Linked DNA regions of Homo sapiens: region 2 is linked to region 1. Evidence: fine-mapped expression QTL. A gene starts in region 1. The other region holds a variant in brackets. All regions are shown on one strand. Distances are from middle to middle. Region 1 holds the start of CAPN10 (calpain 10). Region 2 holds the start of ANKMY1 (ankyrin repeat and MYND domain containing 1).

Region 1 (15,691 bases):
CCTCTGGATGCGTCTTCCCAGGACTGCTGCCCGAGCCCGTGATGATGTCTGCCCTATTGAAACCCCAGGCCCAATGGCCACCTTGGTCCCAGGCCTCACAAGGATTGCCTGGAGCCAAGACAAGCATGGTGTCACGAGAGCAGGGACTCAGGGGCCTTGCTGGAGACAGCCAAGTACAGTCCTGACAGCTGAAGGTGACCAGGACACAGGCCAGACTGGCACTGGGCCCCCCTCCCGACAGCAGCATGGTCCAGGCCCCAGCACTCACCCCTCTCTCCAGAGCCCCTGCCAGCACCGCCGGCCCCAGGGGTTCTGGATCCGCAGCAGCAGGATGCACTGGCCCGCCTGACCCTGGAGCTCCCGCAGGTCCGAGACAATGAAGGCATGGAACTCCCCCAGCTCCCGGGCACCTGCATGAGGAATGGCGCAGGCACAGGCAGGAAGGGCACCATGGAGTCCCAAACTGACAAGGACACACAGGCCTCTGCCTCCTCCTCTGGAGATGCTCCAGCCCACCCCACTATGGCTACACGGGAGACCCCAGATCCCCATGGACCACGAGAGCTCCTTTCTTAGCAGCTGTGACCCATCAGCTCAGGAGCATCTCCAGGAGCAAGCACACGGGGCCTGACTCGGCTGCCATCCGGGTCTGGTGCTGGGTAAGTCATCCCCTTCTCTAGGCCTCAGTCATCGTCCGTACCCATCTGTGCACGATGCCTGGCACAGCACCAGTTCTCAAACATGCTGCACAGATGCATCTGCAACTGCCAGAAATCTAGAGAGTGTTTCTCTTGGCAAAGCCTGCTAGAGGTAGGACATTCAGATAGTGCCCTGGCTAGAAGCCCACTGGAGGCATGGAGGCCCAGGGGGGCAACAGCTCCACCTGGCCAGAGACCTTGAGACAGATGGGCATAGAAAAGAAAGAGCCAAACAGAGAGGAAGGCCACATCTGTGGCGGGGCAACGGTCTAGAGAGGAGGGTCTCCTGGAAGGACTTCAGTCTCGCCCACGCCGCGGCCCCTTGCCACCTCAGCAGGCTCCAATGCACCTCCAGTCAGTGCCAGCTGCCATCTCTCTCTGCCTGGGGGCTTCCTCTAAAGCCTGAAGTGCTAGGACTTAGCGCTACCCCACCCTGGAGCACCCAAAACCAACAGCTCCCCGAGCTAATGCCCACCAGACCAGCGCCCTCACTCCCAGGTGGGAGGCTCTGAGGCCAGCGTCCTTCCTGGCACCCCAGCGGGGCTGGCGGGGAGTACACGCCCTCCAGGCTCTCTGAACCTCTCAACGTGCTCCTGAACCTCATCTCAGGGTCTGCTTATGGGGGACCCAGACCAAGGCCTATGACAACTTGTTTCAGTTTACTGTGATATTCATATTCTTTAACCCATATTTTTAAAATAATCCTAAGTATGAAAAAAATGATAAAGATGTTCATTGATACTGCTTATAATTATATAAAACCAGAGAGATCTTAATATCCAACATCAGGGGAATGATTAAGAGACTGTGGCAAACCCGCTCATGGGGCGAACATTTGACAGCGCGTGTGTGGCAGTGTGAGAAGCGGTGCGGAAGGGAACACGTAAACCGTGCGTGCTCATGGAAAACTGAGAGCGCACTCAAAAGTCACATGTGGTTCCATCTAAGTGATTTTTTTCCTTCATTTTTTGTAGAGATGAGATCTTGCCATGTTGCCCAGGCGGGTCTCTTGAACTCCTGGGCTCCAGCGATACTCCCACCTCAGCCTCCCAAAGTTCTGGGATTACAGGTGTGAGCCACCACACCTGGCCCCTTTCATTTTTTGGAGACAAACTGTTTTTAACGAATGTTATCTATCACTAAAATAAAAAACAGGTTTTGATTTTGCCAGGTTGCCAGCTGGGCCAGGGATGGCACAGACAGTGGGCTTTGACTCGGTGCCACCTCTTCCTGCCTCGCACTAGTGGAAAGGACTGGTCAGGGGAGAGAAGGGCCACGTCCCTCTGGAAGAGGACAGTAGGGGAAGGTCACAAACTGAGGACACCACCCTTGAGAACAAGCTTACTTCTTCCCACTTAGTCCTGACAGGGCTGTGTAGCCAGTCACATAAAAAGCTACAGTGTGCCTGAGGCCTGGCAGTGGGGGGCACGCTGGCTGCAGCCCTCCCATGCTGGCCACGTGCCTCACCTGCTCTGGGGCTGAGCACGCAGCAGCTGATCAGACACTGGTCCTTCAGGTGGAGCAGCTGCCGACAAGTCCTGTGCTCCCAGCGGCCTGGCCTGTCCTGCTGGCCTCCGCTTCCTGCTACGCCCTTCAGGTTCCATCTTTCTGCCAGGCCGCCGGTCAGGTCCACCAGGGCATCCGCCACCTGCCCGGCCCACAGGTGCTCGTAGGACCCATGGACCCTAGGGGACACAATCACCATGGGAGTGAGCCTCTGGCATTGAGCATGGCCCCCTCTCTGATTCCCATGGTCTGTAGCACCCCAAATCGTCCAACCGCTGCCTCAATCCCACCTCTTTACTCCCCTCTGCCTTCTTCCTCATCCTCACCAAGTCAAGGCTTAGCCTCACCTTCAAACGCCTTACTTCACAGCAAGCGTGAGCGCCCTGCAGTCCTCTGCCCACACACAGAAACTCTCTGGCATCCGGTGTGGGCACAGGAGCAGGGCAGGAGGCGTGGAAGCTATGGATGCCCACATCCCTTGGCTCTCAAGCTCCAACCCTGCTTTTCCTAAAACAGCCCTTGGGATGGAAGGGCTCACTGGGCACTGATGTCACCAGCCAGCCTTCCCATGTTCACCAGCTTCCCTGCCTGCCTGTCAGTCCAGTTGCCTTTGGCAAGAAGACAAATGCATTCTAAGAGGGAAGGCTATTCAATTATGACTCATGGTGAGGGTCCTGGTCCCCTGAGCCAGCAAGCACCGTGATACACAAGTGTTGGTATGCTGGGGTAGCCTCATTCCTCCCCAACGACTACACAATGAGTCTGCCTGTCCCAACCACTCCACAACAAATATAAAGAAGCATCTTTCTTGCTGGGGCCGATAAAATAAGGAGGACGGCACACATGTTCTCTGTGGAGAACGACTCCACGCTGGGCTTTGGAACAAGGGAAGGGAAAGCAGGGAGTGGGCAATCCACAGGCCCAAAAGAAGAATCTCTGCACCTGGCCTGTCAGCCTGACTCACAGAATGAGCTGCCAGACCCTCAGAACTGAAGGGGGCTCTGCAGCCCAGAGTGAGCAGAGACCCTCCTGGGGCAGCCCATGGTAGTGGCAGCTCCCACTTGCCCCAGGCCAGGCCCTTCAGCCCCCAGCACACGCACTTGGCGTAGACCTTTTCCAGTAAGGGGAGCCAGAACACATCCTCCCTCTGGCAGCGGGAGAAACAGAGTCTCCCTGCAAGGCACGGCAGGCGGTCATCTGTGGTCACCTCCACCCAGCGTCCAAACTGCCAAATGCGACAGGTGAAGGAGCCCCGGTACTCCTGGTCGGCCCAGCTCGGCTGTCCCGGAGGAATGACCTGCCATGCACAGGGAGAAGCAAAAGGCGAGCGTGATATAAGCACCACCCGGCGCTACTCCAGTGTCCCGGCCGCGGTGTGGCCACAGCTGAGTGCTCCACAGGCACCGCGGTCTGCAGAGAACTCTAACGCACACCTGGATGTCGCAGAGAACTCTACGGCACACCTGGATGTCGCAGAGAACTCTACGGCACACCTGGATGTCGCAGAGAACTCTACGGCACACCTGGATGTCGCAGAGAACTCTTCGGCACACCTGGATGTCGGCGCCTGCACAGGGCTGCATCACCCACATGAAATTAACAGACCTCTCATTGCAAAACTTGAGGACCACACCGAGGGAGCCACATATCCCGGGACACACTCTGCTGCCCTCACTAAAAGCATCTGACCTGAAGCCAAAACAAATGTGACATTCAAGGGCATGAGTGACCCAGTTCTTGACCGAGCTGGCTGCAAGCAACACGTCACCACAGGAACAGCAGCCCCTCCTGCTGCTGGGAGCCTGGCGCCCCGACACTGGGCCAGCTGCTTGCACCCACAGCGTCCACCGCAGGGCTCCTTCAGGGGTAAGCATTCTGACCCAGCATCGGGGGAGTGCAGGCTGGGCACCAGGCACCTGGTGCGGTCCTGGCTCTGCCACTTTACGGCCAGAAACACAATGGCAGTGATTTTAGCACTCTCGTTTAAAAAAAAAGTCAAAGCTGGTAAGACCATGTGTCTGAAAGCCAGTGACTGTGACACGCTTACCATGGGGCCTGGGACATGAGTGAAACTCTGAATGAGGTCACACTGTTGACGCCGCTGCATTAATCAGCAACACTTAGCAACAAGCCAAGCATAAAACGGTGAACACTCCCAGGTAAGGAAAACCTGAGAAGGCCTTCTCCTCCCAGAGTATCTGTCTACCCACAGAAACAGGTTTAATAACTTTTTGCAAACTTATATTCAAAACCTGTAAGAAAACCAGCGAGCTAGCTGAGGAGAGATCTGAGGCAGAGGCTGCCAGCCAGCCCCGTCCTCCTGTGAGCTGGCACATTTGTCTCTTTATTCTAAACGTGGTGATCTGACTCCATGGAGTCCGGGGGTCAGGAGAGCACAGAGCAGGGCGAACCTCCCTGATGGAGCCTTCTGGCGAGGCCAAGGCACCCCCCCCTGCAGCAGAGGGACAGAGTGCAGTCCTCAGCCTCTGCCTTGGAACTCTCCTGCCTTCCCCCAACACAGCAGGAGATCCGGCTGCGGCACAGCTCTGCTTTCGCAAGGCCTCCTGGTACTCAGCAGGCTGGAGAAACGCAAAAAGAAACCGGCTCCAGGACAAACACAGGGAAGGGGCCCCGCACCTGGTCCAGGAGGTGCCTGCTCTTCTGCAGCGCGGCGCAGGCACACAGGAACCAGCAATCCCCCAGCAGCCCCTGCTTCACCTGCCCTTCCCGTGGGTCATCTGGAAACAGCCGGGGTGTGGCACAAATCTCCTGAGATACAGAAAGTTGTCCAGAGTTAGATCATGCCTGCTGTGGAACCCTTCAAACTAAGAACCCAAGGCTCTAGATGACAGGAGTTGGGGTGGAGCTTTTCCGATCATCAGTGTTACCCAAAAAGGGACAGGAAGGTGGTTTCCTGCAGCGGGTGTCCTTCAGCTCCTGGCTTCAAATGCCTCTGTCCAGCTTAATTCTGGGGTGCCTTCCTTCCTTACTGGAAAAATCCCAAACTCTAGCAAGCTCCTTCTCAAAACAGCTAAATGTTGGCTTCGAAAAGTTTCACTTTTTACTCATGCTGGTAAATCTCAAATGTGTCCTCCATCCTGCTGGAAATCTGTTTCTCTAGCAGGCTCCATTTCCCACACCCCCTAACTATCATATACCTTCCCCTTTCTCCCCGTCTACTCAAAACATCCACACTGCCCTTGCCCACCCCTCTGAGCTTCGACCTTGCCTCCTGCTTCTGGACCTGACCCTCTCTCCTGCCCTCAGAGCCTGGGCTCCTCTCACAACTCCTTCCCTTCCAGCTCCCCGGGCAGAATCCCACCCCCATGTTCTTTAAGACATTATCTCTCAGCACCATAGTCTCCTTCAGGCTTCTCTTCATTACAGCTCTTGAAAGAGCTGCCATGCCCACTACCTGCTTCCCATTCACTCTCCACACAGGCTCCTCTAGCTTCTGAGCCAATCATGGCCCCTAAACTGCCTCGATCAATGTCGCTGTCACCTCTATGTTATCAAACCCACTGGGCTTCTCTTGGTCCCAACTCTCTTCCCCAACTACTCAGCAGCATTCACAACAGCAGAACAGCCATCTGCTGCCCCTGAGGTGGTCCCCACTCAGCTTCTGTGAGGCCGCATGCTCCCCGGGTGTCCTCTCCCTCACTGCCTGCTGCTTCTCAAGTCTATCTGTCAGGGCACCTGCCTGACCCCAAGAAATGTTAGGGTTCCTCAAGGCTCAGCCCCAAGGCCCCCTTCTTCTTTACTGATACTCCCCCGAGACACTCTCCCAGGCTGTGGACTGTAAACCATCTAATATGCTCCGCCTCCCAGAAGAATGCCTCTAGCCTATCCCTGCTCCGTATCCACCTGCCTCCAGGACAGATCCACCTGCCTCCAGGACAGCTCCACCTGAAGACGTGAGAGCAAAGCCCAACTCTAGGTCACCCCCAGGCTCTGTCCCAGGACCACCATCCACCCACCTGTTCAGGCCAGAAACCCAGAAGGCATGTTGATCCCTCCACTATCCTCACCCTCTATTTCAATCAGTCACTATGGCCTCTCGATCCCCCCTGCAAGGTACGTCTCAAACCAATCTACTCCAAACCCACATCCTAACAGTCGTCAAGCTAATCTGAGCCCCTTCATCTTTCTCCAGGACCACTACAATGGACCCTTGCATTCTTGCCCCGACAACCCACTTCCCACCCAGCAGCAAGAGTGAGCTTGTAAAAACACACATCCAAGAGAACCACTCCTCTACCAAAACCCTCTAGTGGCCTCCAGCTGCACCTAAAATCAATCTTTTAACAAAATAAAACCCAAATTCCAATGACAAGGCTCTACATGGTCTGACCCTTGCCTCCTCCCAGGCCCTTCAGTGTTGTCCAAGGAAACCAGGTGGCCTGTCAAAGCCATCTCAGTCACGAGAGCCCAGAAGTTCCAGCTCTGTTCGAAGACTGGCGGCCATCAGTTGTCTCCGCTAAGACCGCATCCACTTAGGGCAAGGTTGCTCCCTGGGCAGTCTTATTCAGCAGATAAACCATTTCTAAAAATATGAACACAGCACTCGGCCAGGGCATCCCTTGGAGGTGCCATTTCTAGGTGTTACAACTGGAAAGGCAGGTGCACAAAATCCAAAACTGAAATTCTATCACGCTTTGCTTTGTGGGCTCGGCCTAGCCACTTCAGAGGGGCACGAGCGGCCCTCTCTGCGGGAGGAGCAGACACAAACGCTCTTCAGGGCGAAAGCAAACAGGTGGGGCGGGGTTTGGGGCTCTGTTAAAACGCCTCTCGCAGCGCTCTGAGCCTCCTGGATTGGAGCTCTCGCAGGCGGAGGCCACGACCTAGTTTAGCGTCCTTAGGGTAGCGCCGAGTCCTGCTCGTTCTGGGCGGGGGTATGAAGGAGGTACGAAAAGAGGGGGCCGGGCGCCCACTTCTGAGGAGAACAACGGCGGACCCTGCGTTCGGAGCTACCCTGGCCGCCCACCCCGCCCCGCTCCCTGCGAGGAGCGGAGATCTCAGAAACCAGAAACGGCGCCCACCGCACCCCACACGGCCCCACCTGGGGCCGCCTCCACGTGATGTCCTCGCGGAACTGGGCCAGCGGCGTAGACAAGTCGCAGAAGAGCGAGGAGTCCGCGGCGGGGAAGGCGGCGTCCCGGAACAGCTCCCTCGCCGGCGTCGCGCCCCGGCCCGCCCGCATCCTCGGCTCCGCGGGCTCCCATCTGCAGCCGGTTGCCTCGGGGTCGCAGCCCCGGAGAGAAGGCGAGTCAGCCGCCGCCGCCTCCGGCCCGCCCCGCCCGTTCCCCGCCCGGCCCAGCCCTCCAAGCCCGAGGGCCCCGCAGGTGCTGGACCAGGCCAGTACGCCGGCCCGCTAGTCTCCCATTGGTAACCAGGCGGCAGCCAACCGGGCGTGGGGTCTCGGGTCACGTGACAGGCGGCCCAATCGCACTCGCGCGACGGAAAGCGCCACGGACGTCGGAGGCCCAGGGGGCGGGGCTCCCGAGCTCCGCTCTTTCGTGGTCGGGCGGCGGACCGCACTGTATTTTTTCCTTCCGGGGGCGGCGGAGCCCAGGGCTATCCCGGCCTCCGCTCATACCCGGAGGGCCGGCAGGCGTTCAGTCCTCCAGCCGGTGAGGCTCGGGCCGGGGTGTCGGGACCGCCTGAACACGCGGGCTCTGGGAGCTTCAGGGACCAGGGAGCCACCTCGGCCGAGTTGCGTCGCAGACTACAGCTCCCAGCATGCGCCGCCGCTCCCAGCATGCACCTTCCTCCCGAAACGCGTCTCTGCTTCCGGCGCTCTGCTGCGGAGGCCGTGGCCGCGGGTAGTTGGGAGGAACCGAGATTTACGCTTGGTAAGGCAAGTTGCGAGCTGTCCGGCGCCGGTCGAGTTCCTGCCGCCGTCGTCGTCAGGCAGGGGAGAAGGGGGCCTCAACCCCTCTAGTGACAGCTGTTTGCTACCTAATAGGGCTTTTCATCCCACCGGGCCCCAGGGCCTTCGTTAGGAGCCCAGCAGGCTCAACTTCTTGCTGTGGTTCTGGAAAAGGGAGTGACCACCTGGCTCAACACCTCTCTCTGTGATGTGTTTGGGAGTTTTGGGAAATGAGACGGCTCCGAGGGAAGAGCTTGAGGGAGCGGCGTCGCACTCGTTCGACCTTCCCGGGCCTGGGCTTTGTTTCTAGGCATTTTAGGTTGAACGCTCTACATCTTAACTGGGGGCAGGGGAGGTGGCCAGAGCATCCCGCTGAGCGTTTTCCGATTCCCCAGATGGCCAGGCACCTGGTCCTGGTGGCTGGACAGTGACCCCGTGGACGCACATTTACAGCTATAGCCATTCAGTGCCGCGGGGAGGTGAGGATAGTGATCCTGGGACCTGCTCGAGGATTCACCCTTGCCCCAAGAACCTGTTCCATTCCCAGGAATGAAGGCGGTCAGGCAGGGGAGGAGAAGGGGGCCTCAACTCTTCTAGTGACAGCAGTTTGCCACCTAATAGAGCTTTTCAGATTTTGCCTCCTCAGGCCATTTTACTCAGCCTCGGACTATCAAGGATGGTCACATTGAAGCTGTTTTTCTGCAGTCAGGAGCGAAAAGTCCCGGCTGTTGAAGGAGAAACTGAATCTGGTTCAGGAGTCCCAGGTTCCTCCCTCTGAGAGGCCAGGTGGGGCCTGCGTGAGTAGCAGTTGTTCAGGTGGCAGGACACTGCTGTTTTCATCCCACCTGGCCCCAGGCCCCTGATTAGGGGCCCAGAGTGCTTATGTACTTGCCTCGGTCTGAGAAAGGGAGTGACTGCATAGCCCAACACCTGTGGGATGCCTCACTGCCCAGATGTTTCATCTCCGGGATGCTTCATTGCCCATTCAGCACCCTCTATGGTGCTGACTCTTCCGGAAGATGTTTCTGATTCCTTGCTAGGCTGGTGGTTGCACCATAGCTGAGAGGACTCAAGAAGAGCCTGGTCTCAGCTTCACCTAGGAGTCCCGGAGGAGTAAGAAACACGTATCTTTCCTGTTCTGGGCACATATGGGTGGGTAGCAGAGCTGAGGCTAGCTGAGGATCCCGACTCTCCTTTGGGAGCCTTTGTTGTGCCGCTCTCCCAGGCTGATCAGATCTGGAGAGCTAACAGCTTCCTGTGGCCACATCTGTGTCCAAGGCTGGGCCCATGCCTGTAGCCAGATTGCCAGGATCTGGAAGGGGCCAAGAGACAGCTGGTGCTGGGTAGGCAGCAGCCCTGTGTCAACCTGCCCCCACTATTACCCCATGCTGTGATTTGCATGTGGTCTGCCCCTGCCCAAAATGGTATTGAAATTTGAGCCTCAATGAGGCAGTGTTAGGAGGTGGTGCCTAGTAGGAGGAGTTTGGGTAATAGGGGTGGATCCCTCATGGATAGGTTAGTGTCCTTTGTGGAGGGGTGAGTTCCCATGAGAGCTGGTTAGAGAGTCAGCCTTCCTGCGGTTGTCTCTTGCTTCCTCTCTCGCCATATGGCCACGTAATCTCTTTGTGCATGCCTCTCCCCTTCTACTTGCTGCCTTGAGTTGAAGTAGCATGAGGCCCTCACCAGGTGCAGCTGCCCAATCTTGAAATTTCCACCAGAATTTTGAGCCAAATAAACCTGTTTTGCTTTTTTAAAAAAATAAATTCCCCCACCTTGGCTGGGCGCAGTGGCTCACGCCTGTAATCCCAGCACTTTGGGAGGCCGAGGCGGGCGGATCACGAGGTCAGATCGAGACCATCTTGGCTAACACGGTGAAACCCCATCTCTACTGAAAAAAAAAAAGAAACAAAAAAATTAGCCAGGTGTGGTGGCGGGCACCTGTAGTCCCAGCCCCTCACTCGGGAGGCTGATTGAGGCAGGAGAATGGTGTGAACCCGGGAGGCGGAGCTTGCAGTGAGCCCAGATCGCACCACTGCACTCCAGCCTGGGCGACAGAGCGAGACTCCGTCTCTAAATAAATAAATAAATAAATAAAACAAACCCAACCTCAGGTATAGCAGTGTGAAACAGACTAAGACATTCCACATGCCCTGTGGTCCCATCTGCTACCCCAGGGTGCAAAGATGTTCCCTCAGCCCTGAAGAATGACATTCCCCCCGGCTCCTGGGATATCTGGAGGGGTTGTAAGCAGCTTGGGTTGGTGAGATAAGGAGTTTGGGGGGCAGCTGATTCATGACCCTGGCCTCCTCAACTGCAGGCTCTTGGTCTGAAGTACTGTAATTAAAGTATGAGAGCCTCGGGGCCCTCACTTCAAGGAGGGAAGAGCATCCCCATGCCTCAGCGTTTGGGGATTGTAGGGAGATGAGAGTCCTTCAGGTGGGACTAGTTCCCGCCATGACCCCACTGCTGGCCAGTGGCCTGAAACGCATCTGACCACTTCTCAGGTTCATGGGTGTTGAGGAGGAGCCCTGTGGAATCAACCCTGTCTGCCTCCTCTTATCCTGCCACTCCTCTTGCTCTGTCTGGATGACTGCCCTTGTTTTTCAAGGGAATGTTCCCTGTCTTCCTCAGCCAGGATTTTTTCTGAACTTGACATCTCCGTTTGTTCAGGGGGCAATCATTGGGCACTTCACTGTGCTGGTCCTTGCATTCTCATGGAGATGCAGAGATTAAAAATTAGTATCTTGTCCACATACTGCCCAGAGTTAGCAAGGATTGCTTTTCTGTGGATTTGTCTCAGGTCGGGCACAGTGGGGGTAGGGTCCTTCTCGAACCTTTTCCTAGCCTAAAGGTTCCAGCTGAATCTTCCCAGGCAGGGCTGAAACAGGAACCATTTTAGGCTTTGCTGCAACCCATGGTCAGTTCTCCAAGAAAAGTGAAGAGGGTTCCACCTGGGGCAGCCCTCAAGGGCTCAGAGGGCCAAAACACACGTACAACATGTTGAGACACTGAGTTTGTGCGATCCCCACACATCTCAGCAGTGAGTATTTCTGCCTCATTTTACCGATGAGGAACCTGAGCTTCAAAGGGAAGAGGTGACAGCTCAGGACCACACAGCTGTAGGTAGGAGGCAGGAAAATAGGGTCTGAGTGCAGGGAACATAGGCTGATTCACACTTCAGTTATGATAGGAAATACCTTCTCCATAGGACATAGGCCAAGCAAATGACTTTGTAACTTCATCCTCTCCATCTGCATAACGTGTGCCCCAAGTAACCAATGGAATCACCTAGAGGGTGTTTAAACTCTCAGAAGTTCTGTAACAGGCTCTCCATCTACATAACGTGTGCCCCAAGTAACCAATGGAATCACCTAGAGGGTATTTAAACTCTCTGAAGTTCTGTAACAGGGCTTTTGTGCTCCTATGCTCAGGCTCACCCCCACACTGTGGAGTGTACTTTCATTTTCAATAAATCCCTTCATTCCTTCTTTGCTCTCTGTGTGTGTTTTGTCCAATTCTTTATTTAAGACGCCAAGAACCTGGACATCCTCCGCTGTTAACAGTAGGACGCATCAACTCCTTAGAGTTGGGGCAGCCAGCATAAAAGGAGGCTGACCTCAGCCCGCTTCATTTACTGCAACGTGAGGAATGGATTCTTTGTTGGCAATATTTTAGATTGAGCTTTTTTTCTCATTATAATACATGCTTAGTAAACAGAGTGGGAATAAATATGGTACATGCTCCTCCTTATAGGAATTTTTTTCCTAACTCTTTGTATGAAGTGGTTTTGTGTTCTTCAACTTTATTGTGAGGATTATGCAGATAGTTTGCACAGTTGACTAGTTATCTGAGGGGAGCATATTTTGGATGTGGGCTATTTTCTGCATTGTGGGTGTTGTATTCCCTCCACACTGGAATTTTTCTGTTTGCTCATTCATTTGGAACAAGGAGAGGTTTATCTGGGCCTGGCTGGATGGGTGGGTGGGTGGTAGTGATCTCCTTAGCACTCTGCCTGTGCCTGTTAAAAGCCCCTCGGATCTGTGCTGGGCCTGGCCACTCTGTGGACACCCTTGCCAAGCTCCACCTTTAGCTGGCATGTCCGTGCTCTTGGGCTTCTCTCTGACCAGGTGATTATTCCGAGAGATGGGGGGTGGGGGGGAGCGGAGACTAACAGCTGACATCAGATTCCTCTTAGTAAAAGGACAGTCTTTGTTAGGAAAAACATCTTGGTGGGTGCTTGAGTAAGAGCCCTGAGGGCATGGCTAGTTGAGGTGGCTTAGCTTGCAGGATGTGAAGGTCTGATGGGAAGGGAAGAGAGATGTGGGGGAGAAAATGGCTGAAGAAATGAGGCTGAGTTGCGGGGTGGGGGCAGATGAAGGGCCATGGAGGGGACCCCTGGAGGGTAGAATGCAGGCAATGTTGAGAATGAGGATGCCTTGATTGACTGGAACTTATTTTTTTTTTTTTTTTACTCTCCACGACCTAATATCCCCAAGTGCATTTTCTGTTCCTATAACAATACCACGGACTGGGTAATTTATAATGAAAATAAATGTATTTCTTATAGTTCTGGAGGCTGGGAAGTCCAAGGGCGAGGGGCTGGCATCTGGTAAAGGCCTTCTTGCCACACCATTCCATGGGGGAAGATGGAAGAGCAAGAGGACACACAGCAAGAGACAGCTAAATTCATTTTTACAACACATGCTCATGATAACGAACCCACTCTGATAATGACATTAATGCATTCATCAAGGCAGAACCCTCATGGCCTAATCGCTTCTTAATGGTTCCACCTCTTAATACCATCACAATGGCAATTAAATTTCAACATGAATTTTGGAGGGAACATCCAAACCAGAGCACTGTTGACTGAGTTTTCATTTTTTATTTTAGTAATTGCTTTTTAAAAAATTTCCAGGGTCTCTGACTGGTTCTTTTTTATAAACTACCTGTTCTTGTTTCATAAGTGCCTCTTCATATGTTATGGTTTATTTCAAAAGTCGTCTTTAGGTCTGAGATTTTGATTATATGTGTTCTAAAGTCCTTTTCTGATTTTTCTGTTGCCTCTGTCTCAGGTGTAAGTTTGGGTTGAGTGGCCTGTTTTCCTTCACACTGTGTTGCTGCCCTGGGCAGGTGATTCTCAGTTGTGCCTTACCTTTACATCTGGAGTTTCCTAATGTTCTGTGCAAAGCATCTGGCCTTAGGAGAGAAACACCACCAATAAGTCCCAGTTAGAGTAGGGATGGCAGAGAAACACTCTGGGAGACAAGTCTGGACTGAACCTGTCATGGCCTGAGGGACTTAGAAAACCTTATTTGGACCTCCAGGGCCTAGAAATTTGCATGGGTCTCCTTCACTGTTTTTTCAGGCTTCAGCTTTCTAATCTATCTCTGTAGAAACCAGTCTTTCATCACGCTTCTTTTCCCTTTTTGAACATCATCTCCTACCTGCCTGACTAGGCCCTAATCCCCAAAATGCAGATCTCTCTCACATTCTGGCCTCAGCTCCGTCGTTGTCATTAGTGCTGTTTGCCATCTGCCCCCGCTTTTGTGCATATGGTGGGGTTGCAGCCCCTGTGGTTGTAGGCCCCTTAGAACTTCCACTGCCAGTGTGAGCCCCTCAACAGCTCTCTTATCCCTGGCAAGGTGCCTGGAAACATTTGAGATCTCTGTTCATCGGTACGGGTCCGAGAGTGGTCACATTGAAGAGAATCCCCCCTTCCCCTGCCAGCCTGAGGTGGGCCTGCAGCATGAGAAAGCTTTGTTGTGTGAGACGTCTGCGCTTCATAGTTGTGTGGCTGGAGCATAACGTGGCCTAATAGAGAAGCTGGCCGCTAGGAGAGGGGTGCTGTGCTAATAAAACGTGCGACCTGCCAGGATTTGGAATGTGGGCAGGCTGTTAGGTGGGGCAAAACATTTGGTAAAGCTCAACTGGGATGACTCATGAGGCAGACCGTGAGCTAAGTGTGCGTATCTAGTGGAGAGGTTGGGAAACAACACTGGCCTGAGTATCGGCCGGAGGCTGCATTGGACAAGGGACTGCAGGGAAGCGACGAGCTAAAAAAAAATTCTGCACTTGCAAGCTGGGTGGAAGAGGAACAAAGGTCAGGAACACAAGGACTTAGGGCTGAAAGAGCCCTCCTGTGTACCCCACGGGCGGGCACAGAGCCAAGACAGATTGTGGTGAGGGTGCCATCCTGGATCCAGATGCCCTCCTGCCCCCAGGGTCATGACGCTGGGCACTGCTGCTGAGTTTCCCAAAGCCAGGTGTCAGGCACAGGTGCGCAGCTCAGCAGCGTCCGGAGGTGGCGCTGTGGGCGTGGCTGTAGGCACGTGGAGTGGAGTCACCCGCAGACCACAGAGTCATTTCGAGAGCTGAATTGCAAAAGAAAGAAGAGCCCAGGATGAAAGTCTGTGACTGCTGGGACTTGAAAACAACCTTGGCGGGGAAGAGGCTGAGAAAGCAGTTCTGCCACTGAGCAGGGCTCCTTTGAGGACACCATCAAGCATGGTTAAGAAACAGGAAAGGGGTCCTCCCAAGGCTGGAGCCCCAGGCCACAGAGAACATGACTTGGGGGAGTGGGGTGTCCACTCCCAGGCAGGGGCCCTAGCTGTGCCTGCCTGGCAAGACTTTAGATGGCCATGCAGCAGGGGCTGCCAGGTGCCCTCCATACCCGCTTTCACAGGGGTTACTGCAGTCATCCTATCCCTGGGTGTGAGGGGCAGTGGCAGTCTTCTAGTTCCTAGGTCTCTGGATGGGGTGGCGCCTCCCCCAGACCTGATGTGAAGAAGGTACATGAAGCAACACATGTAGAGACGGCCCCAGACCCTAGACCAGAGTTGCCACCGCCACTGGAGGGGACTCATATGTCCTTGGGAGGGGAGGGGAGGGGCGGGGCATCCAGAACAGGAAGGAGGGTGAGTGGGACATTTGGTGACTGGGGACTGGACAGTGATGGTATCAGGGTTATTTGCCCAGCACCTCCTGCCCTCCCCACTTCCTGGCTGCCATGTGTGGAGTGGGGCTGTGACTGGGCCTGGCCAGCGGGTTGGGAGAAGAGACGTGCTGCTTCTGGGCCACGGCATGTTGGCCAGGTGTGCGTGGCACTGAGATGGTGGCGCCACATCCTTGGGGACTGTGAAGGGCAGCGACACCTATCGCCTGGGAAAATGGAAATCTCAGTTCTCCAAAACAAAACATGCCTGTCACCTTGTACCCATCTTGGGAAAGGATCACCACTGAGGCCGGGATTTGGCTTAAGCCACAGGTGAAGGCCCAGAGTGAAGGTGACACATGGCTTTCCTGTGACATCCAGAGGCTACTCAGGCCCAGGGGGTCCAGCCAAGGGGCTGGGCAGGATTCGGGGAGCCTGCTCTCGGGCTTATGTATCAGAGGAGGGGGCCACACCCAGCTCCTGACCAGCTCCAGGCCCCAAGTCCCGGCAGGCCAGCCCACCCTACACAGCCAGGAAGATGCAGAGGACAAGAGTCGCGAGAAAGAGCGCAGGAGATCAGGTTTGCAGAGTGGAAGTTTAATGGGACCATCACCGTGATACCCCATCACAGCAGTCCCAGGCTGGAGGCCCCAGGCTCTGGCCGCCTCTCCCAGCATGGTGGGC
Region 2 (15,691 bases), 28 kb after region 1:
GGGCAGACACCTCTGACTTCTCTAACCCTGGCAGAGGAGCCTGGACGTCGCGACTGTCAGCCCTGGCTTTCTCCCACAGGAGTTTTCATACTCCAGCTTTTTGGTGATCAGCGCAGTGAAGTGGCTGCGCGGCATCTGCACCCCAGCCTTCCCCTGATGCACCCGAGGGAGGGGTTCCTGGCTTCACCCACTAGGAGGTGGGTGTGGGCATGGAGCGTTTTAGCAGGCTGGGGAGGGCAGCAAAGCTTCCAGGAAGAAGCAGTGTTCAGACAGGGCCGCGCCCAACCCCGACAGAGGACCAGGGAGCTACCAGTTCTCAGATGGAGCTGGTGGGCTAAAAAGGTCTGATGTGACCCACAGGTGTCCTTCAACCTGGCCGGGGCCCTGCTGCCCTTGTCCCCTTGTCACCAGGGCCAGGTCAGCAGGTAAAGGGTGTGCCCTGCCCTGAGGCAAGGGCAGCCGAGGTTTTCATCAGGGTGTTGTGAGCAGGGCTGAGCCGCGGGGGAAACCGCAGACCCAGGTCCTCCCTCCTCTCCAAGCCACTGTTCCTCACCCACTAGTGGCGACCGGCGGCTGCTTCCTTCCGGGTTGATGAAAAGGTTGCATGAGTCATGAGGAGCTTATCTAGAGAGGCCAGCGGCAGGCAAGCCCTCCACAGAGATGGGGACTGCCCTGGGCACCAGCTTGTGATGGGGGCCGCGGTCCACAGCGATGGGTGGTGCCGGCTGGTGACACGGCATAGAGGGGCAGCGACCAACAAGGTGTGGCCTATGCTTGAGGCCCAGGTACACAAGGCGTGGGGAGGGAGAAGGCCCTTCTCACTACCACCCCCACGCTTGGCTGACAAAACCCGTGCTTCCCATCCCCCCAGCTTTGGGCTCTGCCGCATCAGAGATGTTCGGTCCCCAGGTGGGATGCTTTTGCTTAGGAACACAATCGGGTCTCACTGGGAGGGTGGCTCAGACACGGCCCAGCCACGGAAGCATGAGACAACACAGGGCTGGCTCTGGCAGGTGGGCATGAGGCTTTGTGAGGCTTGGGGGCCAGGAAGAGTGGTGCCTCCTACTTCTCTCTGGTGGTGCAGTACAGGTAACGGAGGCCACAGCACCTGTGTGGGCAGCCATGCAGGGCCTGGGGCCTTAAAAATGAAGGATCGAGTCATGCCACCAGGTGAAGGCCATAAGCAGCTTAGGCACTGGCTGAGGGTAGAACATGGAACGAGTATTGGAAAAGGCAGATAAGCACCAACCACAGTATTTTACTCATTGACGCATACAGAATGTAAATACGCGTAGTTGTATATATTAACCAATGACTACGTTATCTGTGATTCACATGTATTACACACATTTTCCTTTTCTTTCCCCACTCCTATTTAAGGAGTGTTGATTCTAGGATAGTCTTTAGGCCACAGGATGTCCAGGAGAGGTGGTGTCTGAACTAGAGAAGGAATCAACATGCTTGGATGCCTCCAGTGGTGGCTTATGGGGTTCCACCCTCACACGGCGGGAGAGGCAGCACCTTGTTGGCTTGACAGTAGCTATGTGACCTTAAGTTGGGGTGCAATGTTGGTGAAACAGAGATCAAAGTAGGAGAGGGGTGCAGATGCTGGAGGCCTCCCGGGTTCCCTCACCAGGCCGTCTGTCAGCACAGCCTCCTTCTCCCCTGCCTGTCACAGGAGGGGCTTCCCATGTTCGGTGCCCAGATGAGACCAGTGAGAGGTCTGGGAGGTGGGAGGAAGGAGATGTACTGTGGCTTCAGCAGCTGGTGGGCAGGAGGCTCTGCTGGCAGCTCCAGGTGCCCTCCACAGCCAGGACATCAGGCAGTGGGGATCTGGGTGGCAGGTCCCTGTGACTCCCCTATGTCTCCTCTCCTGTCCTTGGCTCCCCAGCCTTCTTCTCCCTGCATTCAGTTTCTTTCTGCCCAGTTCCTTAAGTGGTTTAGATTTTCCTGACCAAGGCTTGTTTAATAAGCTGAGCTGACCAGAGGGAGAGGACGGAGCAGATGGTGGTGCAGGGGTCCATGTGGTCTGATGCGCAGACCCTTGCCCCACCAGCAAGAGGGGACAGAGACCCTCTGGAGCTGCATTTCCGGAAGATGGGGCTTAACTGGGAAAAATGAAAACTCAGTGTGGAGGCGAGTGCACTGGGCGGCCGTGGTGCCGTGGGACCATGGACCTCAGAGGGCACTGGTGGCAGGACCGCAGAGCGGGCCCTTCAGGCCACTTCAGGGCCACTGAGGTGGAGGATTCTCTTGTGAAGAAAGCAGTAGGAAGGATGGAAAACCATACTTCCTAGACAGGCATCTGGAGCAGTTTCAGTTTTGATTGCTGTTATTACTACTGATAACTGAGCAAAAGTGGTGATGATGCTTGAGAGAAATTTCTGCAACCCACAGTCAGCAATTATATGTACAGCCAAGTACAGCGTGTGCTCATTTCTCCCTCGATTTTTGAATCTGCAGTTTACCAAAGCTGCCAATGCTTTCTTATTATTATTTTATTGCAGCAAATTCCAGATGTGTCTCCAACGGGAAAATATACAACCCTCTTGCCTTTGATGATTATTCTTATGATTTCAGGCATTAAAGAGGTTATATACATCATAAATGACATGGCAGACAAAATAGTTAAGGAACACAAAACTGTTATGACAAGATTCATGGGACACGTTTAAGTGGAAAGAGGTGAATGTGGGTGACACTGTGAAGGCCTCGAATGGGGAGCTCCTTCCTGCAGACACAGTCCCGATGTGTTCATATAGCAACATCTAATCCGGATAGAGAGACAAATGTAAGACACGGCAGGCTTTGCCAGAAACAGCTGAAATGCAAACAGAAAACCAGCTGTTAGGCCTATCTGGAAAAATAGACCGTGAAGCACCTGATCGTCATTTCAATGGCTGAGCTTCCGCCTAGGTGGTAAAAGCCCTGTTCCAATAGGGCCTGACTGGGTCTTGTTAAGAGATACACAGCTTAGAAATGCTCAGTGGATTGGCCGGGCGAGGTGGCTCACGCCTGTAATCCCAGCGCTTTGGGAGGCCGAGGCGGGAGGATCATGAGGTCAGGAGATTGAGACCATCCTGGCTAACACAGTGAAACCCCGTCTCTACCAAAAATACAAAGAAATTAGCTAGGCGTGGTGGCGGGCGCCTGTAATCCCAGCCACTCAGGAGGCTGAAGGACGAGAATGGCATGAAGCCGGGAGGCGGAGCTTGCAGTGAGCCAAGATGGCGCCCACTCCAGCCTGGGCACCAGAGTGAGACTCCGTCTCAAGAAAAAAAAAAAAGAAATGCTCAGTGGATCACTGGCATAGTTGTTTACACTGGCTTTGAAACCAAATTCCTGCAGAATTCTGTCAAATCACCTCAAGAGATCAGAGATTAAGAAAGTGACAATGGGCGGGTCTCCCTTTGGTTCCTGCTGCTCTGGTCATGTCTGTAGTGAGCTGCGTGGGAGCCGTGCTATGGAATAAAAAGTATGGTGACATTTGGTACCTGAAAGAGGATTCCAGCTCACAGCATTGTGTTTGACATACTGGTGTTCATCATCTTATAACAGTACCTCATCCCCATTAGTCTGCTGGTCACTATGGAAATTGTGAAATATATTCAGGCCCAGTTTATAAACTGGGATCAAGATGTGCATTATAAAGTAAATAGTGTCCACACCATGGCCAGCACATTCAATCTCAGTGAAGAACTTGGGCAGGTAAAATTTCTATTTTCTGATAAAATGGGAACCCTCACTTGCAATGTTAAGACATTTAACAAGTACCACTGCAGGTGTCATTTATGGTGCAACACCTTCCATCCGAGCCCTGATATTTTAATTACCCCAGTTTATTGGAGAACATTGAGAATGGCCATCCCACAGAAAACTATATAGACCAATTTCTTACCCTGTTATCTGTGTGCCACACTGTTATCCCTGGAAATATTATAATCTACCAGGCTTCCTCCCCGGATGAAGCAGCTTTAGTGAAAGGAGCAAAAAAACTTGGCTTTGTTTCCCTACAGGAACACCATACTCTGTCACCGTAGAAGCCATGGGTGAAAAAATCACTTTTGAAATTCTTAATGTCCTGGAGTTCTCTAGTAATAGAAAAAGGAGGCTGGGCACGGTGGCTCACGCCTGTAATCCCAGCACTTTGGGAGGCTGAGGTGGGTGGATCACGAGGTCAGGAGTTTGAGACCATCCTGGCTAACATGGTGAAACCCCCCATCTCTACTAAAAATACAAAAAATTAGCCGGGTCTGGTGTCACACACCTGTAGTCCCAGCTACTCAGGAGGCTGAGGCAGGAGAATCACTTGAACCAGGGAGGCGGAGGTTGCAGTGAGCCGGGATTGCGCCACTGCACTCCAGCCTGGGCAACAGAGACTCTGTCTCAAACAAACAAACAAAAAAAAAGAAAGAGAGAAAGAAAAAGGATGTCCGTAATTGTCCGAACTCCTATGGGACAGCTCCAGCTGTATTGCAGAGGGGCTGATGAAGAGAATAATTCCCCAATCACCCAAGTTGCCCTTCAACAATGTCTTCATCAACAGCTTTCTTGATCTAAATGTCCCACGTGGGTATGCATTTTCTCAAACAGAAGCATCCGTGGTCACGCAGGAAGAACTAGTCCGTTCTTATGACACTACTAAAAATAAACACAAGAAGAGTTGCTTTTCCTGATTTCACCTATGACTCAGATTCTGATTACTGTAGTCTGTACTCATGTCCTTCCCTGAGACTGGTAGAATGCGCCGGCACCCCCAAACACTCAAGATTCTGGAGTGTAAATAATGGAGGATCCCTATTTGCTTTTTCTTAATTTGTCTTCGATGTTTTACCAAATGTATTTCTTTTTGTGTCTGTAAGATAATTTGTGCATCACCTCAGCCGGAAATATAAAATTAAAAGCACTATGTTTCACACACACACACACAAAGGAAAACTCGATATGACAGTGAGGAAGAAGGGTAAAGACCAGCCTTCTGTATCAGTGCAGGGACATCCTTCCTCCAGGCAGCAGGCCTTCAAGCTTCAAGCCTCAGGGCCCAACCCTAAGGCTGGGGGCTCTCCCTGCAGGCAGGACTGGGCCTGGAGGGCCTCCTCATACTTCTGGAGCTGAGACCAGAAGCCCGGGTTCGGTTCTGCTACCGGGCGAGCGCTCTTCACCATCTGCAAACAAGAAGTGTACTGAATAACCCCAAGTCGCGCTAATGGCCAGCAGGGGCCAAGGCGGGCCCAGCTGTAAGAGTGGGCCCCGCCCAACCCGGAAGTGCCTCTCTGCTTCCCTAAGCCCGCCCTCACGAGAGAGACCCGCCCCTCCCGGAAGTGCCTGTCCCAATCCCGAAGCCGGCCCCGCCCGGAAAACTCGTCCCCGGAAGACACGCCCCTCTCGAAACACCGCCCCCCTAAAGGCCCGCCCACCTGGAAGGCCTTCGCCAGGCTGAGGCCGCGGTGCCGCATGAGGTACGCGGTGCAGACGGCGGCCGAGCGGCTGCGGCCGTTCTTGCAGTAGACTAGGCAGGCGCCGCCGGCGCGCACCGCGGCCTCCATGGCGGCGCACGTGGGCTCCAGGTGCGCCAGCAGGTCCTCAGCCGGGTCGTCGAACACGGGCACGCGCAGCTCTGCCACGCCGGGCGCGCGCGGGCCGGGCTGCTGGCGGGAGACGTTGACGCACAGCGTGACTCCCGCGCGCGCCAGCTGCTCCTCCGCGCCCGCGGCTCGCGCGCTCCCGAGGAAGAGTGAGGGCGCGACGCGCACCAACGGTGGAGGTACGGGCGAGGCGGCCCCGCGGCGCCCAGCTTCTGCCGGTCCCATGGCGCCCGCCGAAGAGTCTGCTTTTGGGCCCTGAGGATCTATTTTGGGGGCTCAGGCGCCCGCCCAGGAGTCTATTTGTGGGAGCCGGGCGGGCCGCCGGGCGCCCCCGGGTCCTAGAGGCCTCCGAGGTGGACCAGGCTGGGGCTTGGGTCCCCCGCGGGCGCTGGGCCGGGACAGGGGGCTTGGGTCTCGTTGGGGCCGGGGCATGGCGGGAGGTTTGGGCCTCACCAGGGCGCCGGGGCCTTGGACCGCTCTGCGTCCCATGTTCTCTGTCCCCGGGCGCCGTCCTCCCCGCCCCCGCGGCCTGTGGCACTGGGCTTGCGTCTGTGGCTCTTGGGCGCAGCGCCCTGCCCGCTCTACTGCGGCGTCTGGCGCGGAGGCGTGGCTTGGCCGGGCCCGCCCACTTCGCGTCCGCGTCGTTCGGCTAGGGCCCCGTGGCTACCCGGTGCACGTGGACGGCGGGCTGCGTGGTTCCCGTGTCTTCACCCTTTCCCTAGTGACTGCGTTGTCGGCTTTACGTTTATTCCTTTTTGTGGCCCGCTTTGTAATTGGTGCATTTTTTTCTATGTATTATAACACATGGCTCATAAAATAAAACTAATTTCTATTTTCATCACTTCTTCATAGACCACACTATTCCTTTTGCTGTTTCTAAGTAATTTATTGGGGTCAGCATTGTAACTTTAAAAAATTTAATATCACTTAATGTCCATGAAATTGCCATTTAAGACTCCTTCAATTTTTCTGACATCTGGTAATTTTCAGGCAATGGATACACTGAAAAGCAACTGTCTCAACAGCCCTACAGACATTTAGCAATTGAAGTTTCAGTTGCATACAGTCTCTCTCTGGGTTATCGTCATTGCTTTGTCCATCAGCCTTCTAGCATTGGTAACTGTCAGATCTTTATTGCAGCCTGGGGTTCACTCTTGAGCTAAAGACTCAAATATGTCTGCAGCCAGGTCTTCCCTGGTTGCAGCTCCAGACATCACCTCCGTGGAGGTCTTATCAGCATCTGTTTCCCACTTCCTCCACCCTAAGGAAGGACTCCAACTTTCCTAGGATGGAGGAGTGGAATTCCCTTTTTTTCCCTGGCGTTCAT[G/T]GGAGCCATTGATTAGGTTGGGACACTGTCTCCCTCCGCTTTCTAGGAGTTGGCTCTGTCTCTGGCCAAAAGTGAAGGCCACACTCCCGTGACTGCTCTGGGAATGAGCTTGGTGTCTAATAACCCATGAAGGAGAGAGCACTTTGGAAGGCTCCTCTGTTCTCTCATGGCCATAAGGGGAAGCCAGCCTTGGGTGAAAGCAGAGGAGATGGGAGAGCCAAGGTCCTTGATGCCACTGTTGGGCCACTGAAATGAATCAAACAAAACCTGAAGTCCCTCCTCCTCCTGGACTGTTTCATGAATCATCATCACCCTTTACGGTTGGAGGATGGTTGAGGTGGGTTTTCTGCTCCAAAGCCTGCTACTTGAACCATCATGCTCCCACTCCATTGAGGTAATGGATTGGGAACCAATTCATCCTAAGTGTCTCTGCATCTCATTGCCACACTTAGTCTGGGCCAGCCTCTGTCTCCTGGACTTGGTGCTAGTCCCCCACAGTGTAACCAGAATGTGCTTGCTAAGAACAGAGGGTTTCTACATGTTGGTTCTGACTCCTTAGCAAGTTGTAATTCACAACTAATGTGGGTTGTGAAATCAATTCTGTGGGTCATGATCAGCATTTTAGTTTTTAGAGAAATAATAGACTACATGAAAATATTAGAGTGCATGCATGTAGTATGCCGAACTTTTAATGAAACATTTTTCTGAGTGGTTTGTACTGGGTCGTGGTGTAAAATGAGATTTTAGAGAGAAGTGAACTCAACAGACAGGCACTGGCGTGTGGAGGCAGAGCCCCTAGAACCCCAGAATCCTGGCCCAGCCTTAGTCCTTAGTCCCCGGAAAGCTAGCCAGTGGGGAGGGCCAGGGCATCAGCTCTTCACACCCCCTGCCCTGTTCTCAGAGGCAGTCTGGGTTGAGAAAACGCAAGCCCTGCACCTCCAAGAGCCTCTCCCCTCTTTGCAGGAAGGCCCAGCTGTTTCCCACCATGGTGCCTCTGTACATCCCAGTCCAGTTCCTGAAATGCGCTCTGTAGCCTGGAGAGCTCCTGCGCATCCTGTGAAGCCCCATCAAGAATCCGCTCTCCTGCAGTCCTTCCCCGAGGCCCTCGGAGGGTCCAAGACAGCCAATCCCTCTTCTCTGCGGTGACTCTTGCGGCCTCCCTCATCTCGTTCCCTCCGCAGGCCTCGAGTTACCCTTGCGCCTTCCACATTTACTGAATGAACAAAGGCCGGGGCTGGAATCAGGCAGGGCTTGAGCAAGTCGTGGCTCCACGTGCTAGGTGATCAGGGCAAGTTAATTAACACTTGGGCCTCAGTTTCCTCAGGTGTCCCACGGCGCTCCCTGTGCCCCCATCACGGGAGTGTTGGGGGAATTTAGCGCTTTCTCTCCCAGGGGTACTCGGCCCAGGGGCTGACCGGGTAAGCGGGAGGCTGGCACCGAGGCCCGCGGGGTGTCGGCCCCAAGCCCCTGAAGTCACAGAGGGCGGGCACGCCCGGAGGCGGGGCCGGGTGCGTCCTGGCGGGGGGATTGGCGGAGCCGGAGAGTGGCAGCGGGCATGGGGCGGGGCTGTCTCCAGGGAAACGCGACGCTCTCCGTAGGCGCAGGGCTGGCAAGCAGTCGGGACGGGAGCGCGGGCGTCCGCGGTGGCTGCAGTCCCGTCGGTCTCCCTGCTGTCCGGCGCGAGCTCTTCGAGTCTTGCTTGGTGCGGTCTCGCGACAGGAGCGCTGGGAGCCGGGGCTAGGGGGATCCCGGAGCTCCGTGGGGCGGCGGGTGCGGGGGGGCGCCAGGCTCGCGGTCCCCACCCCAGGGAGGGGCCGAGGGGCTGGGGGCGTGGGGTTAGGTGGGCGCGGCGTCTCCCGAGCCCACCCTCGAGCGCTGGCTTCAGAGGCCCGTGGCTGAGACCCGCTGTTAGCGGCGCCTCCTGGGCGATAGTGGGTGCGGGCCTGGCCTGGCCACGTGGCCGCGACCGCCCTTGCTGTGATTCCCGCCCACGAAGGGACAGGGACACCTGGGGACGCGGGTGAAGTTTACCCATGGTTCCGACAGGTCTCCCTGAGGACTCCCAGGGATGGTGGTCCGGGACCTGTGGGTGGCGGCCCAGGCTCCGGCGCGGTTCAGGGAGGGGCTTGGGTTCTCTGAGGCTCAGGGGCCGCGGGCCGGGCCTCGGGCGCCCTCTGAGTTCGCGGCGGGAGCCCTGGGGGCACATGTGCGGTCCTGACGTCGCTTGCAGGTTGGAAGACCACAGACATGGAAGGGGCCCATGCCTCCCTTAGCTTAGAGGACGAAGTCTCTGGGGCTGGCAGCCGCCAACGCCCGCTAGAGGGGAAGGGCGGCGAGACCCCTGCTGCCGAGGAGCCGGGGTCCCTGAAGAACTACGCTGTCTTCGCCACAAGGTGCGGGGGACCCTCCAGCGGGGAGGTCCGACCCTGACCTGGGGCCCAGGGTTAGCCGGGATTCTCCTTAAGGCAAGCAGTAAAAATCCCTGAACTGTGTTACTCCCTGAGAAACTAGTTTCTGGAGAAATCTGAAAGCCTCAACACTGTGTCAGCAACCTACTGAGGAAAACGACAATAGATGGTAATTGGAACCTTCTCATGTCCCTTCCTGCCTGCACACTCTGCCACCCGTGTCGCCGCCTAGTGGAGGGAGGGAACGTTTCCCTCACGAGATGGGGCTCCCAAGCTGTCTCCATCTTCACAGCTCTGTTGTTCACAGCCAGGGGCTGCCCTGGAGTCTCACTGCAGCATCTCACGAGGTCCCCCTGTCACCCCATCGTGCTTGTCCCTGTTTGTGGGCCTCCAAAACTCAGTCCCAGCCCTGGCCCAGTGTGATGGGTGTTGGGGACCAGCCTCAACACCACCCGTAGAGTGCCCAAAGTCTAGTGGGGACAAAGGATTGAGAAGAGACAGGTTAAGAATTGAAAGGTGGGGAGCCAGGGGGCCAGTTGCAAAATGGAGGCTGCAAAGGGCTCAGAGTTCTGGTCTCCACACTGTTTATTGAGCACACTTAGATCTGAGAAGCAGATGTTCAGGGCGAAACAGTGAAAGGGTGGCAGTGTGTCATAGGTGTAATCTATAGCAATATTGGTTTCAGTGAATCTCCTTTGTGCTCAAACAGCATATCTTTTAACTTATCGGAGAGTAACTGGTGGGAGCGGGCTTAGCTAGGAGCCTGCATGTCTGTCCACAGTCCAGGGCTTCAAAGGAGAGTCTTTCTCCTTGAACACAGTGTTTACAGATAAGAGAGCGGATCTCGCTCTGGGCATGGGAACATGATGGCAATTAGGAGGCTTTCCTCCTCAGAGGCCTCTTGTGGCTTTCCACAACTTATTGTCCCATATTTTCATGGCCTGTTTATGCAGGCACCCCACAAGCCCTTTTCCCACAAGCCCTTTTCCCAACAATGGGCTTTGGGAGGTGGCTGGGTTTAGATGGGGTGGTGAAGATGGAGCCCATGATGGGATGAGTGTACCTATGAGAAGCAGAAGAGCCCAGAGTTCCCCCATCCTCTCTCACTACCATGTGGGGAGCCAATGAGAAGGCGGCTCCACAGGCCAGGAAGAGGACCCTCCCTAGGCAGGGACGCTGCTGGCACCTTGGCCAGGGACGGCCGCCCTGCACAGCTGAGAACGGAAGGCCCTTTGAGACGCCCCATCCATCTGTGGGGGTCTCAGATGCTCTGTCCGTCTGGGGGGGAACTGAGATGCCCTGTCCATCTTTCATGGTCTGAGGCACCCCATCCACCTGTGTTGGTCTGGGATGCCCTGTCCTTCTGTAGGGGTCTGAGACACCCCATCCATCTGTGGAGGTCTGAGGCACCACGCCTTTTGTGGTCTGAGATGCCACGTCCGTCTGTGATGGTCTAAGACGCCCCATCCGTCTGTGGTGGTCTGAGACGCCCTGTCCATCTGTGGGGGGTCTGACATGCCCTGTCTGTCTGTGGACGCCCTATGAGTTACGGCAAATCCACCCTGGTTTGTGCTCCCCGCTGTTGCAGCATACTCCCCAGCCCTGCATCCATCCATCTGTCCACCTATCCACCTGTCCATCCTAGTATGAGCTGGCTGCCTCTCGAGCTGCCTTCCGACCTTCCATGGGTCCACATGTGTGGGCAGTCTGTTTTCTGTCCAGCTTGGGGCTGGCACTCCTGGCCCTTGAATGAGGACCCTGCTGTGGGCACCCACGTCCTGCAGGCAGCTGGAGTGGGACAGAGGGCCATCGATCTCAGGAGATGCCGCCAGCAGGCCCGGGCTGGACAGGCCGACTGGTCCTGCCTCTAGAGCCTGGCAGCATCTCTCCTATCCGTTGGCAGCCTTACTGTGCATTCCACTTCCTGTGTGGCCTTGGGCAATCGCTGCACCCTCTGTGCCTCGGTTTTCTCTCCAAGTGGAGTGGGGATGCAGCGGCACCTGCCCCGGGACTGTGGGATGAAATGAGATGCTGGGTTGTGCTCGGGGGTTGTGCTCAGCAGTCACTGAAGGCACTGCAGCCACTTCACTCTTCCCTCCTTCTGCTCCTGTCCTTTTAGGGATGTTTCAGCAGCCCCTGAGAAGGAAGAGGAGGAAGCTGAGGGCCCGCTGAGGGCGCAGGACCTGAGGGAGTCCTACATCCAGCTCGTCCAGGGTGTGCAGGAGTGGCAGGATGGTTGCATGTACCAGGGGGAGTTTGGGTTGAACATGAAGCTTGGATATGGCAAATTCTCTTGGCCCACAGGCGAGGTAACTGCTTCCACACTTTCTCCGCCTCCTCCCCTAGGGCCTCTGGTGGCTGGCCTTTATCCTTCCAAGAGTGATGGGACGGGAACTTTTAGGCCCATCAACAGGAAGGGTGCTAGGCTAAAGTTTTTCCTCCTTGAGAAATGTCCAGAGAAAAGCATCTTTCCCAACTTCCAAAATCACACCCATGGTTTGCTGGGGTCCCAGGATGAGGTTTGGGAAGCTGTGACTTAAGAAGATAAGTTCTTATTCTGGGCAGACGTTTTAAAATTATGAATTGCCATAGCAACTCGTATATTTACCTTGGTGAAATTGCCTGTGTCTAGGCTTAAGCAGAAGGCAGCGAATGTTCTAAAAGACAAAATGAGAACAAGTTTTGCACCCCCAGGCTAGGTCCTGAGCCCACATTCAATGCAGCTGAAACTGAAAAGGCCTCTGTTGGCGCTTGCCATGGAAAGTCCAGGGGTAAGGTAGCCTCAGGCCTGGCTGGATCCAGGATTCTAATGATGTAACTAGGTCCTCTCTCTTTCCATCTCCACGAGGGGGTTCTAAGACTGACCTTGTTCCATCTGCCCAGCCCCTGGGGGTGGCATCAAACACCCCTGGGAAAGAGAAAGGCCCCAGCAGGACGCTGGTCTGACTTGGGGATGCATGAAGTGCATCAAGATGGGGCAGGGGTAAGGCGTCCTCTGGTTGGCCAGGCCTGGCCCAGGCACTGGGGCTGGGTCCCTTGGGGAATCCTCTCTGTAGGGAGAGGGCATCTGTTGTCAGAAGAAAGGGAAGGGACACTAAGCTGTGAAAACTGCCATGCCCTTCACGTCGGGGTCAGGTCTGGGTGGACTGTGAGCATGGATGGCTGTGCGGGCACTCCAGGCCCACCCTGTTTCTGAGAAAAAGGTGGTGCTTGGCACTCAGCATGAGGTCTCCTGGCTGGAAGCCCTTGTCATGAATGTCACATTCTTTTTTTTTTTCGAGATGGAATTTCACTCTTGTTGCCCAGGCTGGAGTGCAAATGGCACAATCTCGGCTCACTGCAACCTCTGCCTCCAGGGTTCTAGTGATTCTCCTGCCTCAGCCTCCTGAGTAGCTGGGATTACAGGCATGCACCACCACGCCCAGCTAATTTTTGTATTTTTAGTAGAGACAGGGTTTCACCATGTTGGTCAGGCTGGTCTTGAACTCCTGACCTTAGATGATCCGCCTGCCTCGGCCTCCCAAAGTGCTGGAATTACAGATGTGAGCCACCACACCCGGCCAAATGTCACATTCTTTTTCCCTCTGGGGGCCTTGGTAAAGGGGCAGGCTCTGATACACTCACTCCTGTTGTTTGTGGAGCTCACGTGTCCAACCAGTGCTGAAGAGTTATAAATCAGAGTCCTCCCCTGTGCCTACTGGGGCCTACAGCCAGCCTTCCAGGGCCAGCCTGTCACCTGTGAACCTGGCAGGGAGCTCAGCAGCATGGGGCTCCTGAGTGGGGACAGGACCCTCCAAACCTAAGATCAAGGTCACCAGGGAGAAGGCATGTCCGTGCTCTCCTGACTCAGGATGTCTAGGTAGTTTTAAGCCTCCCCACAGTCCCCCACCTGAGGAGAAGACAGAGAGGGAGCCTGGCTATCAGGCTGACTGCCTGGTAACCCCTCTGGGTGCTTCAGTTGCCGACTCTAATAGTCGCATGCCAGGCATCCCTGAGTTCTGCCACAGCCCTGGGTGGTCCCCATTCATTGCCAACCAGGCATGGTGGCTCAGCCTCAAGGGCATCCCGTCAGGTTCTGGAAGAGCAGCAATTTCTCACCAACTTCTCCATCTCACAGTCATACCATGGGCAGTTTTACCGGGACCACTGCCATGGCCTGGGTACCTACATGTGGCCAGATGGCTCCAGTTTCACGGGCACATTTTACCTCAGCCACCGAGAAGGCTACGGCACCATGTACATGAAGACACGGCTTTTCCAGGTGAGGGGGCTGCCATGTGTTCAGCTGGGGTCGAAGTGGCTGTGTGTGTCTAAGCCACTGGACAAAAAGATATTTCGGTCCTGGGGAAGTTTATTTGTTTAGCTACAAGTAGCTTTTTTACTTTTAATGATTAAAATGGTACCAATAATAAGGATATAGACTGAAAATAAAAGCCTCCTTGCATTTTATTCCCCAGAGGGATACCAGCAAATTGTTACATGTCCTTTAGATTTAAGAAACGCACGTGTTTATTTTTAAATATGTAAACTGGATCACTGTACACATAATGTTTGAAATGTGCCTTTTTAAATGGAGAACATGCCTAGTCTTTCAAATACAGATGCCTTTCCCCCTTTTATTACAGTATAATTTACAGTAAAATTCACCCATTTTAATATATAGTTCTGAAATTTTTGACAATTACAGGGTTGTGTAACTACTACTGTAGTCAGGATATACAAACAGTTCCATCACCCTCAAAATATTGCCATGGCCTTTGTAATAAATGTCTCCTTCAACAAACTGTGGCTGATCTATTTTGGCCTAGAATTTTGCCCTTGTGAGAATGCCATATTAATGGTGTCAACAGAAAAAAAACAAACTCTGCAAAATATTTTAAAGAGGTTTATTCTGAGCCAATATGAGTGGCTGTTACTGAAACACCAGGGGTTCGCTCTAGATCTTTCCGCTTCCTGCACAGAAAGCCCATCACTGAGACAATGAGTATTGCCAAGGAAGAAGGCTGTAATTTGGAGGTGCAGCTGAAGAGATGGGAGCTTAATCTCAAATCCATCCCCCTGACTAAAACTAGGGGTTTATATATCAAGGAAGAAATGTAATAATGTGTGAGAAAGCAGGAACTTGGGAGGGGTGAGGAAGCAGTCACGGTGAACAAAGGGCCTGGAGTCACATTGAATGCCATGGTCTGGTGAGTTTCAGTTCTTTGATACTTTCTGAGAGGAGTTTCAGCTCTTTGATACTTTTTGAGAGGCCTGAAGGTCTTTCCTGAGGAAGAAACTCAGATAAAACAAATTTAAGTTTCAAGCTTTAAGACCAGAAGGGTCAATTTCTATGTTTATCTGGAAACAACTCTCTGTAGGATTACTGGGCTGGTTTCAGTCCCCCCTTTTTGTTTATCAGTTCCTCAACCATGGGGAATCAGGTTGTGGGTCTTTCTGGCTGCTCCATGCTGAGGAGGGGCGTTGTGGGCAGCTCCATACCATGGGTGACCATGTGGTCACTTAGGAATCAAAGGTTAATCTAAATAGAGTTTTCTTCTAAAAGACAATCTCTTTCCATTCCCCCACTTGCATCAAAGACAAATAACAGTAGGACAACCTACTTGCAAAATAAGCTTCAGTTTCCTGGTGCCCTGATCACCCACACAAAGCACAGCAAGAACTGTGGTTCGCATAGGCTGTCCTAAACTGGCTTTGCCGGAACCTCTCGCAAGGCCATTTCAGTTAAAGCCTTGGGAAAATAACCAGTTCCCCCAGCTGTGTCCCATTATAAAATAAAACAGATTCTTATTAAACATATGCAAACAAACACGTTGCCATGAATTAAGAATATTCACAAATAGTTTAAAAATTCTGGAGAAATTAGGCAGAGAGAAATATGACTCAAATTTTGTTTACAAATGTATACTCTACTCAGTACACTTAAAGTATATTTCAAGGTTATGAATAGCTCAAAAGAAAAAAATTATCCTGACTCTGAAAGACAAAAGAAGAATCAGCAATATTTCAAAAAAAAAAAAAACATAAAAAGCATTCCAGTGTTCTGTTAGCTGAGTCCATGCAGTCAGCTCCTGCCCTGTGTCATATTGGGTGAGCAATGTTTATGAACACATCAGCCTTCCAATTAGTGCAGTGGAAGTTTTCTCTCTCATCCAGTGGCACAATCGCCAAAGTTATCAGACACCTGAATTCAATAGTCCTTTTCAGGAACTCCCCCAAAGAAGCAAGCCCTGGACGGTAGCTGATTACAAGTCACTTTTTTTGAGAAAGATCAAAGCAAAACAATTGTGGATGACAAAAGTCTTAAGGCAGCCATAGTCAAAAGATAGAGATGACAAGGAAATTTGGTTATTTCTGTGTCATACAACAAT

What was found.
Region 2: its variant is fine-mapped to the expression of CAPN10 in whole blood (TOPMed, PIP 0.97).

What each region holds. Positions count from the first base shown.
Region 1 is chr2:240,578,625-240,594,315 of GRCh38, reverse strand. It overlaps CAPN10 (calpain 10), which reads right to left and starts at 7,582. Exons shown (of 12, transcript NM_023083.4): 1 at 7,264-7,582; 2 at 4,842-4,973; 3 at 3,305-3,501; 4 at 2,166-2,383; 5 at 269-410. The coding sequence starts at 7,404. It overlaps CAPN10-DT (CAPN10 divergent transcript), which reads left to right and starts at 8,000. Exons shown (of 1, transcript NR_103792.1): 1 at 8,000-11,566. RNPEPL1 (arginyl aminopeptidase like 1) reads right to left here. Exons shown (of 11, transcript NM_018226.6): 11 at 12,944-15,691. RefSeq lists a silencer at 7,316-7,545 and enhancers at 6,745-7,571, 7,510-7,804, 7,856-8,035, 9,026-9,395, 9,766-9,835 and 2 more.
Region 2 is chr2:240,550,804-240,566,494 of GRCh38, reverse strand. It overlaps ANKMY1 (ankyrin repeat and MYND domain containing 1), which reads left to right and starts at 8,507. Exons shown (of 18, transcript NM_001282771.3): 1 at 8,507-8,614; 2 at 9,143-9,305; 3 at 11,440-11,629; 4 at 13,438-13,581. The coding sequence starts at 9,160. DUSP28 (dual specificity phosphatase 28) reads right to left here and starts at 6,138. Exons shown (of 2, transcript NM_001370465.2): 1 at 5,418-6,138; 2 at 1,239-5,165. The coding sequence starts at 5,810. The coding sequence ends at 5,028. RefSeq lists silencers at 1-44, 5,650-5,699, 5,880-6,289, 8,348-8,567, 14,522-14,621 and enhancers at 1,515-1,594, 4,920-5,279, 5,310-5,379, 5,412-5,553, 9,611-9,680 and 2 more. The variant G/T (reference allele first, on the strand shown) is at 6,913.